Linked DNA regions of Homo sapiens. The protein of the gene in region 1 binds, or shares a complex with, the protein of each later gene. Each region holds a gene or a part of one and is shown on either strand. Other genes may lie near its edges. A codon is read from its position in the direction of its gene.

Region 1 (7,034 bases):
ATTGTTATTTGGTATTACCATAAACTTTTAAAAGAAAAAAAGCCACATAATGAAAAAGTATTTGTCAATTCAAGAGCGCCTTTCTTCTGAGGGGAGAAGGATTTGTGAGGAGCAGTGGTTGTGACGTCCACTCCTGTTGCTTTTTCCAGTTTTGGTGTCCACATACCTTGGGGAAGCTGTAGAATTATTTTATGCCTAATTTTTCTCTTTATAGAAAATTATTATTGAATTATCTGCATAGTTCATAGTTTTGTTGTGAAAATTAATGAATCAATATTTATTAAAGGGAAGGACAAAGTACTAAGCAAAATGTTAAGGCGGCCCCTCAAAAAATCACTCCAGAAATGAGTCAGGTTCGAAGTAAAAATTCACAAATATAGTGATTTTCAAAATTATGAAAAAACATTCGCATTCTGTTTTTTTTTCTATAAGCATTTATTTATGCTATGTTGTAAAACTTACATAAAATTTAAAGATTGTATGCAGGCTAATAATTAGAGTCATACTTTTCTTGTGGAGACTAATTGGAAAAATTAAAAATTACATCCTAGGTTTAATTATAATGATGACATCTTATTTTGGTAAACATATTTTATAATTTGCTAAGCACTTATATCTCATTTCATTCTATAGCCCACACCACCGGGGGGAAGTAAGGGGAAGCAGATATACTCATTCTTACAGATGAGGAGGAAATGGAGGCAGAACCGTTTGCAGTCTAGTTATTTGAGTAGGTTGGTGTGAGTAGAGGGTAAGGAAGGGAAGGATCCGAAGACAGGGTGTAAAATTCAAATCCCACTTTTATTAATTCAAATATTGAATTTTTAAAGAAAATAACTGAACAATTTTAAAATTCATTCTTCAAATATATGTTATACAGTTCTCATTTTATGTATTTCTTTATTTTAAAATAATGCTATAATGAATGACACTGGATTCTTGCCTTTCCCCCCATTAAACGCTAATGGAGCCTTATCTTACAGTTGGCAATGTGTAGATGTGTATGCCTTAGAAGCAGAAGGTCCTTCAATGGTTCTCAGTCCTAACTTCATGTTTGCAATATCTGGAAAGCCTTTTAAATAAAACTCTTGCCCTGGCTGTATCTTAAATCTAAAAGTAGATCTCTGACTTGATATTCCAGTGGCCTGGCCTGTGAATCATTTCTCGTTGACTAGCCTGTCTTAACTCAATTTGACTAAAAAGTCTTCACCAAGAGATGTTAGTTGCACCTCTGTTTCTATTAATGCTGGCATCATTTTCTCTGTCACCTTGGAAATACTTTCATATTCCTCCCTCTCATGTTCTATTTTTCTGTGTTTCTCCTACTTCACCACCTTAATATCAGTCAGTGATTAGTCAACAGGCAGAAGCTCCTAGAAATTCTTCCTTTTTAAGGTTTTCTTGATTCCATCTCTGCTTTCTACTCCTTATTTCAGTGTAGTTATGACAAGCATAGTCAGTGGCACTCAGGTCCTCCCCCATCCCTCTGCCCATCATTTGGCTCTTAAACGTGCAGAACATCTTGTCTGTTTCTATTCATTTTATCTTTCTGTAACATCCTTTTTCATCCTGGTATTCTGTTGCAAAAATTTTCATAATAAAGCTTCCATTGCCAGCAAGAAAGTCCAAACCGCTTAACATGGATTAAGGTCACTTGCAATCTGTCCCAACCTGTGTGTATTTTTAAAACTTCATGTACCATTTCTACTCTTACCATTTTAACCCTTTTCACAACACTTTACAAAATGATGCCAGCTCATTTTTTATAAACTTCAGAGTAGCTCTGATTATATTGGCTGATTTTTCTCATCATAAATAATATACATGTATATTAGGGGACATAAAACTAGGCTATAATTTTGTTATTTAGAAAGCAAATCCTATATTACTTCTGATTAAGGACATATGATGTTTCATAGAGCATTATGAAAGACAAGGGAAAATATGTGGAAATTGTAGTTACTGCTTCTGTTTTACAGTAGTTGTTGACTGGCATTTTTGTTTTTCTTTTGATTCAAAAAAGCATTTTTTAAAAAATGAAAAGTAAATCTGAAACTGGAATTGTAGCTTTGAAATAACATTCAGTACTATTTCATACACATTTATTTCTATATACATGTATGATAGTTTTTCAGAAGTTCCTTTTGGTGAAGGCTCATTGGTCAACTCAGAGTCAGCTAAATATATTAAACATGCTTTATCTTAGAAAGGTCAGTGCTGAAAGCAGACAAACAAGTTAGTTTATTTGGAGGGTTTGAAAAATGGACTTGTCATTGTTTGGCAGGTTGCCCCTCCTTGGTTGTCAAGGTCACATTCCGTGAATCAACTGCCCTTCAAGTACAGTTTGGATAGGGAGTGCATCCAAAGGCCATCCTCCTGATTGGTTCCTCTGAGCCTCTTGTCTGTCTCCCTCTCACTGCCTCCTCTGATACCTCTCCCTCTGTATCGCTCTCTCTTTTTTCTTTTTCTGTCTCTTGTCCTTCCTCTCTTTTTCCTTTCCTCTATCTCTTTTCTTCCTTTCCATCCATCTTTCTGTCCTCTCTCCCAAACTCAATCCTTTATATTTTAGCACTTCTTGGCATGGATGTAAACCTTAATTTTGAAGTCCCAGAGAGTTATTTAATGGCAGTGTTTCCAGTCATTAAAAAAAAAAATGTTGAGGATGGGGATTCTGATGATGTTCTTGGACATACTTTTTGGAGGGAAATGGAGTCTATCAGGAGAGAGTTGCGGGCATAGGAAATTAAGTCACTCAGCTTCAGATTTACACTGCTAATCAGTGAAAACTCTTGTCAACCTTACCTCACCCTGTGTATTCTCCCCACCTCGCCACCATTGATAAGAAATGTTTAAGCTGGCTTTTCTACCCTTCTTTCTCTTTTTCTTCTTCATTTGAGTTAATCACTTGACCATTAATGGCCCTTTGAAAACACTGAGGAAAGAAAAGCCCTTTTAAAGACAGAATTTAAGTTTTACATTTTCTACTCTTCTAGGGAATAACTTATTAATGGCATCAATTGTTTTCAGGACGAAGATGATAATTAAATCCCATCATCTTGTATTTTCGTGGTGTTTCAGATTTTCTAAGTTTGCATTTATTTATTATCACCTTCAGAAAGTTTCTTTTTAAAGTAATTACAGTGGGCATTGTTATTGCCATTCGATAGAAGGGAACAGAGATTCAAAGTTACTGCTTCAATTGATTTGCAGTGTTTGTAAATTTTAATTCCAAACTGTTTCCATTAGATAGTGCTGCTTAGATCACAAACATTTTTTTTCTGGTCTGTCAGTTCTCTTACCCTAATTAAGCTGTTGTACACTTTCATTAGTCATTCTTAGATGAAATTCAAGTAACAATTATTTTTATGGAGTGTTTTATTAACTTTGTTTTTTGTAGTATGTGTTGCTTTTTTTTTTTTTTTGAGATGGAGTCTTGCTCTGTTGCCCAGGCTAGAGTGCAGTGGCACAATCTTGGCTTGCTGCAACCTTCGCCTCCTGGATTCAAGCAATTTCTGGCTAACTTTTGTATTTTTAGTAGAGATGGGGTTTCACCATGTTGGCCAGGCTGGTTTTGAACCCCTGACCTTAAGTGATCCTCCTGCCTTGGCCTCCCAAAGTGCTAGGATTACAGGCATGAGCCACCGTGCCTGGCCTGTGTTGCTTTTTATTCCTTAATTTTTTTATATAGCATCTTTTATCACCTTGTACCCAGTTTTCTATGCAAGTATTTCTTTTTCACTACACAGCTTCCTCGTAAGACTTTAACATATGTCTAAGGTCATTTTACTTTCTCTATCTCTTCATTGTTCTCTTTAAAAAACTTAAATATCTTAATGATAACTTTAATATCGAGATGGCATTTTGGATGAAAAACTTCATCAGCTTTTTTCCCTCACAAATTTAGCATGTAGATATTGACACATTCCTTTTATATTATTCTGCCATTTCTGTAGCATTTCACCAGTATGCAAGTCTGCACATGAAGGTATGCTTAGGAAAACTTAATGAACATCCATTTGTACACCTGATTACCATCATTTCATGCCTATAATGTGCAGATAGCCTGATGAAAAGCAACAGGCTTGTTCCTGGTATTATTCAAGGAACTCATGCTATGTGCTGCCAATAGAGTGGTGTTTTCATTCAGAGAATGCTCCTACTGGGCTCTTTTTCTCTGTCTTTGTTGAAGGCCTTCTCCTAATAACTTCCGAGCTCTCTCTGTCTTATAGTGCCAAGTAAAGAAAGTATCTGAAACCCAAAATTAAGTAGAGATGTTACACAAGGAAATTGTTTTAAGGGTAATTTAAATAATTGGATGTTTAATAGAGGATGCTTTCTGCATTCTTGAGGGGTTCAGACGTAGTGGAAATGACTTATTTATATATGGCTACTTTAAGATTGAGACATAGCTATTGAATTTACTTTGTTACTCCACTGTCCATTTAAACTTTTCTTGAGTTCTTATAATGTGGCAGGTGCAAAAGATGAATTAGAGTACCCTACATTCAAAGAAGCAATTTATCATAAGGTAGGCAGAATAGTTTTGACCAAAAAGTTATAAAATATATTGTAAGACAGGGGTCCCCAACCCTCGGGCCATGGACCAGTACCAGTCCATAGCCTGTTAGGGACCATGCTGCACATCAGGAAGTGAGCAGCAGGAGAGTGAGCATTACCACCTGAGCTCTGCCTCCTGTCAGATCAGTGGTGGCATTAGATTCTCATAGGAGCAAACCCTATTGTGTGAACCCTGCTGTGAAGTGTGCATGCAAGGGATCTAGGTTACATGCTTCTTATGAGAACCTAATACCTGGTGATCCGAGTTGGACAGTTTCATCCCGAAAGCATCCCCCTCTATGTCCAGGGAAGGAAAGGTTGGGGACCACTGCTGTGAGCTACTATTTGAAGACAACCCAGAAGTGATTTTTGCTTGTAGGTTTCCAGGCAAAGCTTGAGAACCAGTTCTCCTATCCTGATGTAGAACCTGGTATGATCTACAACACTAAGAACGTGTACATACCTGTGCTTGTATTACTCTCATTAGGACTACTGTGGCAATGTCCCAAGCAAGCACTATTCAAGATATTGACCCTCAAAAGCAAACTTACCTGAACTGTTCTTTTGTTCTAGTATGCACTCAAAAATCATTTAATTCTGATGAAAAGGGGTAGTTGTGTGATTTTGGGGTCAAATTTTAGACCCGTAGAAAAAAAATTGTATATGTAATAAATTTACATATTATAATTTATACACACACACACACACACACACACACACACACACAGAGTTTCACTGTGTTAACCAACTCTGCTCTAGAAAAAGAACCGATGGGGTTTTGATGACGAGCTGCTCTCTTAGTTATGGGAGGTGGGGACTCTCTTACTCATAGCATTTTTTTTTTTTTTTTTTTGAGACAGAGTTTTCCTCTGTTGCCCAGGCTGGACTGCAGTGGCGCAATCTTGGCTCACTGCAATCTCCACCTCCCAGGTTCAAGTGATTCTCCTGCCTCAGCCTCCCGAGTAGCTGGGATTACAGGCTCATGCCACCACGCCTGGCTAATTTTTATATTTTTAGTAGAGATGGGGTTTTGCCATGTTGGTCTCAAACTCCTGACCTCAAGTGATCTGTCTGCCTCAGCCGCCCAAAGTGTTGGGATTGCAGGCATGAGCCACTGTGCCCAACCTCTTTTTTTCTTATGAAAGACTTTTGCTGAATGAAAACTAAGTTCATTTTCTACCCAGAATCATTTTGCCGTGATGGGAGAGAGCCAACATTGGTGTTTTACTGATGCCAGATATGACTGCATGGAGCTCTATTAAATAGGGCGTGGTTTGGTTGGGAGTTACGTCTTTATTTTGAATTTGTGGATTTTTAAGATAAGTGTCAGAAAGCAGGATTCTTTGTAACCCTGCAATTCGTACAGCCAGCTTTTGTCTACTGTAGATGAGATTTGGCAGCTACTACCCAGAATAAGAAATTGATTTTAAAAGTTCAAGTGAATGCATTCCATATTTAAGATGTACATTCGTTCTAATTTCACAAAAAGGTGAAAAGCAATTGTAAATGTTTCCTTTGCCAGAATAATTTAAGTGACTTAGTATTTAATGAAACAAAATGATTATGGTGATAGCATTTTAGGACTGTTTTTGTCTGCCTGTATCCTGCTTTATTTCCTCCTATATTTCAATCAGTTTCTTGAGATTAAAGACAAAAATCTTTTTTACTTTATCTTCTTTCTCTTCTTGACTCCTAAATGTTGTTGTCCCTGAGAACTCACTCATTGCCCCTCCTCTTTCGACGCTTCCCCTGGCTGAATAACCCCAACTGTGTTCTGATACAGCATACTGTCTCAGGCAGGGCTTCAGACTACAACTGGATGACTCACAGATATCTCAAACAAACATATTAATAATTGAATTCATGGTTTTTCTGTAAATACTAATTTTATTTTATTTCTTGAGACAGGGACTCATTGTTTCACCCAGGCTGTTTGCTTACTTTGTAGCACTTGTAATCACAGCTCACTGCAGCCTCAACCTCCTGGGCTCAAGCCATCCTCCTGTCTCAGGACCCCAGCTCCACCCCCAAAGTTGGGACCACAGGCGCATGCCACCACACCCAGTGAATTGTTTTATTCTTTGTAGAGATGGGGGTCTTACTATGTTGCCTAGGCTAGTCTTGAACTCCTGTAAGTACTTAATCTGCCTTCTGCTTCTCTGCTCTCTAGGCTTTTCTCCCATCAATGCACTCAAGAAGGAAATCTAGGTGGCATTCTTGAATGTCTTTTCTCTCATATTCAGGCCTCCAGCGATTGCTGTTGTACTCCAGATGTTTTTTTCCATCTGTCACCTATCTTTCCACCCACCCTCTTACTGCAGATCACACTCACCTGCTCCCTGAGCTGCGGCCAGTCCTTTGCTTTCCTTGTTCCATTTTTTTCTCCCTCTCCCTTAATGCTTTCCCCATAGGGCATAACATTTAGTTTTCTTTAGTAGATGATTTCATTCTTCTTAAAAAACTCAGTGGCTTCAAAT
Region 2 (7,034 bases), on another chromosome or scaffold:
TTAATAGAAATATATTCAACATGGCTTGTGCAAAATTAATAAAATTCTTTAGGTAAAATGGCTTTGAAAATCATATATTATGCTTGAGGAGGAGTGAATGTGGGAGGGGGTTATTGTCATGGGGCTTGTCCTACTTGGGAGGAAGGAGGAAAAGTGAGGAGCAATCATTCCCCTTCCCTTCCTTCCCCTCCCTAACATTTCCAGGCTCTGTTTAAAACCAATGGATATTGCCATTAAGCACGTGATGAAACTGAGGGTGCTGTCCCTGTCAGGGCAGGGATCCATGGTCTATCAGGACATTTCTGCTGTCCTTTTCATGTAGCCACGTCCCCATGCCAACTAGAGTTCCTTTGGTACTAACTCTGAAACCACTGATGGGAAGTGGAGATTTTCCTGGAAACCCTGAAATGGGTCATAGTACTTCATTAATTAAATCATTTCCAGGGTCACTCTAAGCCCATGTTTTGTACCCTATTCCATTTCTCCTCCAAAATTATGCCCAGGCATCTTGTCCAAAATAGTTTATAAGTGGCTCTATGATGAGATCACGTACAAAGGTTAAGTGGGGGTGTTAACTAGGGACACAATATCCACAGTGCTGCAAAAAGGTATTTCTATGTCCTCTTACTGTGGAATACTGATGCCTAGGACACCTGCCCCCAAGAGTCTTCTCCTTTATTTATAATTATATGATCCAAAGCCAACTTGAGAGCATATTATGAGGACTATCTCAAACTAATGGGCATGACATGGTAATCCAAGCTTGACCCCTTTGGTTTCCTCCTTATCAAGCAGAGCACGATTTGGGGTCAGCCTAGCTAGGTCTATTTACCTTGAATTGACTACTTAAAGCTAGACCCTCACAGCAAGCTCAAGGGTCTTGCAGTGTAAAAATATCAATTATTATTCTTGCTAGCGATTACTAAAAGGCCTGTGTATGGAAATACTCTTTTCCTCTTTATTAGAAACTTCTCTACCAAGGCCTCAGCTGACTCCGGTATACGTGCTAAGGCCAGAATTTATAGAATCCAAAATCGAGCCACAGCAGCCCACACTCTCACACCCCAACCATTTGGCAGTGCTTTCTCACAGCCTCTCTTCTTTGCTGAGGCCAGCGAGACCGGAATTTGCTTGCTAGGCTATGAGCAGCTGGTTTCTGCTGAGGGCCCTTGTGTGGCTAGCATTTGGTTGGAGGGCCCTGAATAGCTTACCTCCAAGGACTGGGCTTTTGCTGATGCTGTACAGGCCCTGGTTGTTTGCTGAGGTCACCAACCTATACCTTTGCTGGGTCCCTGGCACAATATGCTGACCATCTATTACATCTAGCAGTACCTCTGAAAACAGCCATTTATCTTTAGACAGAGCCACCATAAACTGCAACGATTCACCAAGATAAAAATACCATGATACCATGTGGCCGGTTTACAAAAACAATCTTTTTTAAATCTACAAAGATAGCAACACTTTTCATCAACAGCAGTTCACCTAGAGAGAGTCGACACTTTTTGTCTGAGTGAAAAACAAAACCAAAAAAACGCTGATCCACACATCAAGGTTCAAGTCCCTGAACATGAACCGCTCTCCCAGTAGTGTTGAATTTCTACTTCTCATCGATCTGGCCCAGTGTACCAGTGTCTAACATTCCCCTGAATTTAATTTCTCCACTCAAATTGCAGAACACTGCCACAGGAACAGTTCTTTCTGTCAACAGAAGCCCAAAAGCAGAGCAGAATATAGGATATGCTCTCAGGAGGCAGCCTAGCTTCTGAAGGCAAGGGATGAGAGAATGGACTGGGCTGGGCCATGTGTGCCCTATTTCTCCTTTCAAATATGGGCCAAAACCTAGGAGCATTACACTAAAGGGGTTGCCTGCACAGAAAAAGCAAATTAGGAATGAGTAGTCCCTTTCTCCATAATTATTATTATATACCAGCAAAACCTTATTATTTTGAATACAGTAGGTAATTTGGCTGAAAAACATCTGATTTGTGAAATAATCGAAAAGAAAATATTGCTATTTTATGCTAACACCAAAAATATAATTTGATAAATTAGAAGGTTCTTTAAATAGGTAAATTATGTATACAAATGAATGTTTATTTTAAAAATGTTTTCCATTCGGAATATTCTTATGGAAAAATAATGACTTACAAAGCATTTACTTAATAGTTTAAAAAAGTAAAATTTACAAATTACAAATTGCTTACATTTAAATAGATGCCTTTTCACCATATACTTGAAATTAAAAGTAGAGGTACCAACTCTATAGAGGGTTAGGGGGGACAACCCAAGTCCTTGTATCAAATAGTAATATGACAGAGAACTAAATAAAATTGTAGTTCCCTGCGGGGACTACCGACATTTGTCCTTGTGGCAGCCCCCTCTCCTCATCCAGTTGTTTTGCCCAAGGTGGGTGCCTCGCTCATGGGCCCCCTCCTCAGCATGTGTTCATTGAACACCTACCGTGTGTTGGACAAATGCTGACCCCTACCTTCCCCAGGTCCTCCATGTGGCACTGCAGGGCACCATTCTTTAGCCCACTGTCTCATTCCTTCACTTGGCTAACTGATGGGAAGAATCTTACCAACTAACTAGTGATGAGGTACTAATTATTTTGAATAGCTTGCTGTACTACACAGTACCAGAGTTTTCTCATCTCCTGTGTAAATACACTTTAACCCAAAGGAATAAATTTATGCCTTTATCCAATAGGAGATCACCTTTTTTTAAAGATACCTTCCCAGTTTTCCTCAAGTCATTCCACACGTACATCCCCCTCACTGTCTTGAGATCGAATGCCGCTTGCTGGTTTGCACTGTGTTTTTCTAGCTACTAAGGCAATGGAGGTTCATATAATGATACAATACCCTGTTACATTTATATGGAGCTGGCCCATTTGTTATTATCCCTATTCAGCCTATAGAATTGTGGGAAATGAACTGTAGGATTTGGAGACCAATAAATTGGTATGGTTTTCAAATTGCCTTATAATTATACTAGAATAATAATTATACTATAATTATTATAATTACACTAGCATATTCCAAATTTTATGTGCAAATTTGTGATGATTGTGCTAGGTGCTAGAATGTGACTAATTTATTAAGAGCTTATCCTGAAAAGTTTAAAATGAAGACTACATGATGTTTTTCTTCTATTGAACTAGGAGCCGAAGCTAATTTTATGCTGAAAGTTCATCCTCTGAAGAAATATCCTGTGGATCTTTATTATCTTGTTGATGTCTCAGCATCAATGCACAATAATATAGAAAAATTAAATTCCGTTGGAAACGATTTATCTAGAAAAATGGCATTTTTCTCCCGTGACTTTCGTCTTGGATTTGGCTCATACGTTGATAAAACAGTTTCACCATACATTAGCATCCACCCCGAAAGGATTCATAATCAATGCAGGTATCTAGGGTTTGATGTGGATATGCTAAATTAATTTTTTGCTTATAAAATCTCACTTTGTTTTTAATGTAAAGAACTTACCAAATTTTATATTTTTATCTTATAAAATAAGAATAAAAATATTTGGTGAGGTGGGGAGGTTTCTTCATATCTGAAAACTTCTGAGATGAACTGTAGATTGGGCTTTTTATTTTATATTTCTTTAAATATTTAGTCAGTTTTTATCACCAAAAAAAACAAAAAAACAAACAAAAAACCCTACCTAATGTTAGTAACTTTGAATGAAGCTTCAATAGTTAGGCTGCCATGTATATAAATACCTCTTTGGAAATTCTGTATTTTTATTTTTTGATTGCTCCAAAATTGCTGAATTATGATTTGACACATTTTAAAGAGTTTGTGCCAACACGTCATCTATCTCTCCATTACTGTACTGTGACTGGGGATAATGATGTTGTCTCCGATGTGACTACAAAGAAATCTCAGTTATCACAAAGAAAGTGGGTCAAAAGATGAGAATTTGATTGCTTAGAAAGAGCCTTTTTTCTTATCATTTTAGATTTCTGATTCTAAATAACATATGTCCCACTATGAAAGAAGAATTAGCCTTAAAAATACAAGTGTCTCACACAATATTGCCATTAGCCTGTGGAATTTTCAGAAAAATAAATCTGTATGGATCTTTTTTCACAAAAGACTTTATCTTTCTTGCTTCTACAAATTGCTTAGATTACTTTACAATACACATTCCAATTTACCGAAACAGCTCTGTCATCTGTTGTACCGGAACAGGATTGATGCATCCATCAATGGAGTTTCATAAGCCTTCTTGAGGTGAATGTACAGGAGGAATCATTCTTACTTTCTGGGTATCATAGATTCTCAAAATAATTTTAATGAATATTGATTGTTCATCAATAATTCCACCAAGCATCACTTTAAAAATTAGTGCAGTATTAAAAAAAACTAATATCATATTTCAACTAAATTCCTCAAAAGCATTTTCCAGAAGTGTTTCTCAGCTGTTCAATGATAAGAAATCACTGCACATTCTTATATTCACCTTAAAAATTCACAGCGCAGATTAAATATTGAAAGCCTTTAACTGTCCTATATTAAAAAACATGTTTAATCATCTTTATTTTTTTGAATACCAAATGCTTATAGTCTTATTTCCTATTTGCAAAGAAATTGTCATCAGCATTGAGCTTATCTCTAATTTTATAAGCATAGATTTTCGTCGTATAAAGTTTCCCTGGCACAAAAGAAGTACTCCCTTTTCACACAACTGTACAATTTTACTGTTAAGTATTCCAGAATGCTTAAGAAGAGCAAAATAAACTTTACACTTCTTCTTTTCCCACACAGTGACTACAATTTAGACTGCATGCCTCCCCATGGATACATCCATGTGCTGTCTTTGACAGAGAACATCACTGAGTTTGAGAAAGCAGTTCATAGACAGAAGATCTCTGGAAACATAGATACACCAGAAGGAGGTTTTGACGCCATGCTTCAGGCAGCTGTCTGTGAAGTAAGACGTTTCACATGATCGAGTGTTTGCTAAGATGCCAAACTTTCAAAGAATTTAGACGTTTTATTTTCTCTTTGATTTGTGGAGTGAAAACGTAGTGTAGAAGAAAACATATCTTACTATCTCTTACTCCTCACCAAGGTGATTCATTTCGGTATGTGTTTGGGACAGAGGGGCTAAATTCAGGGAGGGATTTAAATAGGAAAAGACAAAAGGGAAAGAATAGGTTATGAACGCGAAAATTCTTTCCAAAAGGGCTGCTTTTCTCATGCGCCACACTCCAAGGAGGAACTAGAAGTAGACTGTTGCCCTCCTCACTTCAGCTTGTTCTCCTACTTTTTTTTTTTTTGAGACGGAGTCTCGCTCTGTCGCCCAGGCTGGAGTGCAGTGGCGCCATCTCGGCTCACTGCAAGCTCCGCCTCCCGGGTTCACGCCATTCTCCTGCCTCAGCCTCCCGAGCAGCTGGGACTACAGGCGCCCGCCACCACACCCGGCTAGTTTTTTGTATTTTTAGTAGAGACGGGGTTTCACCGTGTTAGCCAGGATGGTCTCGATTTCCTGACCTCGTGATCCGCCCGCCTCGGCCTCCCAAGGTGCTGGGATTACAGGCATGAGCCACCGTGCCTGGCCTCTCCTACTTTTTAATCTATATTGTTCTTCCTCCAGTGGAACACTAGAAATCTCTAGCCAGGAACTAGTGTGGTCACATGGCTGTGGGAAAATAGAGGATGTACAAATAAAAGTTAAAGCTATTTACGCAGCAGCGTTGTACCCACGCACATCGTTCTAGCCTGACTTACTGTTCGTCAACTCAAACGTAATGTTTACTTGAGGTAAAAACCACAGTACACATCTGTGTTATTGTACAAAGTCTAATTACATGTTTATTTTTAAGAGTCATATCGGATGGCGAAAAGAGGCTAAAAGATTGCTGCTGGTGATGACAGATCAGACGTCTCATCTCGCTCTTGATAGCAAATTGGCAGGCATAGTGGTGCCCAATGACGGAAACTGTCATCTGAAAAACAACGTCTATGTCAAATCGACAACCATGGTAATGCAGCAGTAACCGCTTAGTAGATATGACTCTTTTGGTTAAAGTACAATTTTAAATTGGCAACTCAACTATTTTTGTACCAGGAAATTACCTACAAAAGAAAGATACAGAACAAGGATAAGCCATGAGAGAGAATTTATGGAACAGTGCAATCTATAAATACTGATCAATAAAATATATGAATAAAACAGTTTGACAGTTTCTAGTAGCTGACTCTTTGATGAATGACAAAGCACTGTATAATTTTTGAAAATAAAAATGATACAAGATTTTACTTTTTATGTAATTCTAAGACAGGGGAAAAAAGTATACCTTTGCTTTATACAAATAGACCAGGTCTACGGGGTCGATATCTACAAACATTTTAAGGAGGAAACCTCACAGTACAATAGGTAGAAACTAAATAGAAACCAGGGAAAAAAGACAAGAGAGAAAGAGAGTCAAACAAAGCAGGCTTTCTCTGTTTTGTACTTTACCTCTCTGCATCTTATCTATTTAAGGTCTCTTTTTAAATCAGTGACTATCTGGCTTGCTTCCTGAGGGTTAGTATAAGCTCTGAATCATATATTTAATATAATCACCTAGAACCATATCTTCCCTGGCATTATCTAATTCTAGTTGTGAAGAATCAACAGTCCAAAGCATCATTTACTTCTGATGTTGACACTTATTTATATATTCTTGCATATGTTAAAACAGAACCTCTCCAACTTTCTCAGTTCATGAGACCCTAGTCTCTCAGTGATTTTATTCCATGACACCCGTGGGTCAAAAGAAATACCTAATAGTTCTGTTTTTTTAAGTGGTTAAGTCCAAATAACTCAACTATTTATGTCTTAACAACTTAGTATCTCCTTAAAAATAATACAAATGTATCAAGTGTAGAGATACATGTTTCAGTTTTAGTAAGTAACTTCAGAAATTTTCAAATCCTGAAATCAGATTGGTCATCACTACCCTGATTTCTTCTTCCGTGTTGATTTTCAAGTTGACCAGCTTGGTAAAGATTAATGTCATTTAAAAGAATAGA

What was found.
Region 2: the proteins of ITGAV (region 1) and ITGB8 are in contact, whole or in part, in a cryo-EM structure (PDB 8TCF), measured with the Homo sapiens proteins. Residues at the interface, in NP_002201.2 of Homo sapiens: Tyr48, Phe51, Trp123, Leu141, His143, Gln150, Glu151, Arg152, Pro154, Phe184, Gln186, Phe189, Pro204, Trp209, Asp249, Tyr251, Tyr254, Arg275, Arg278, Thr279, Gln301, Met302, Ala303, Tyr305, Phe308, Pro328, Leu329, Met331, Ser335, Asp336; in NP_002205.1 of Homo sapiens: Ser197 (codon at 3,367), Pro198 (codon at 3,370), Ile202 (codon at 3,382), His203 (codon at 3,385), Pro204 (codon at 3,388), Arg206 (codon at 3,394), Ile250 (codon at 4,894), Asp251 (codon at 4,897), Thr252 (codon at 4,900), Pro253 (codon at 4,903), Thr287 (codon at 5,900), Ser288 (codon at 5,903), His289 (codon at 5,906), Leu290 (codon at 5,909), Ala291 (codon at 5,912), Leu292 (codon at 5,915), Asp293 (codon at 5,918), Lys295 (codon at 5,924), Leu296 (codon at 5,927), Gly298 (codon at 5,933), Val300 (codon at 5,939), Pro302 (codon at 5,945), Glu321, Ser324, Leu325, Gly326, Gln327, Glu330, His349, Trp350.

What each region holds. Positions count from the first base shown.
Region 1 is NC_000002.12:186,593,046-186,600,079, forward strand, and holds part of ITGAV (integrin alpha-V isoform 1 preproprotein), read left to right. Parts: intron 1-7,034.
Region 2 is NC_000007.14:20,375,885-20,382,918, forward strand, and holds part of ITGB8 (integrin beta-8 precursor), read left to right. Parts: intron 1-1,446; exon of another isoform or gene 1,447-1,517; intron 1,518-3,166; coding exon 3,167-3,413; intron 3,414-4,781; coding exon 4,782-4,947; intron 4,948-5,842; coding exon 5,843-6,001; intron 6,002-7,034. UniProt on the Homo sapiens protein: Integrin alpha-V:beta-8 (ITGAV:ITGB8) is a receptor for fibronectin. It recognizes the sequence R-G-D in its ligands.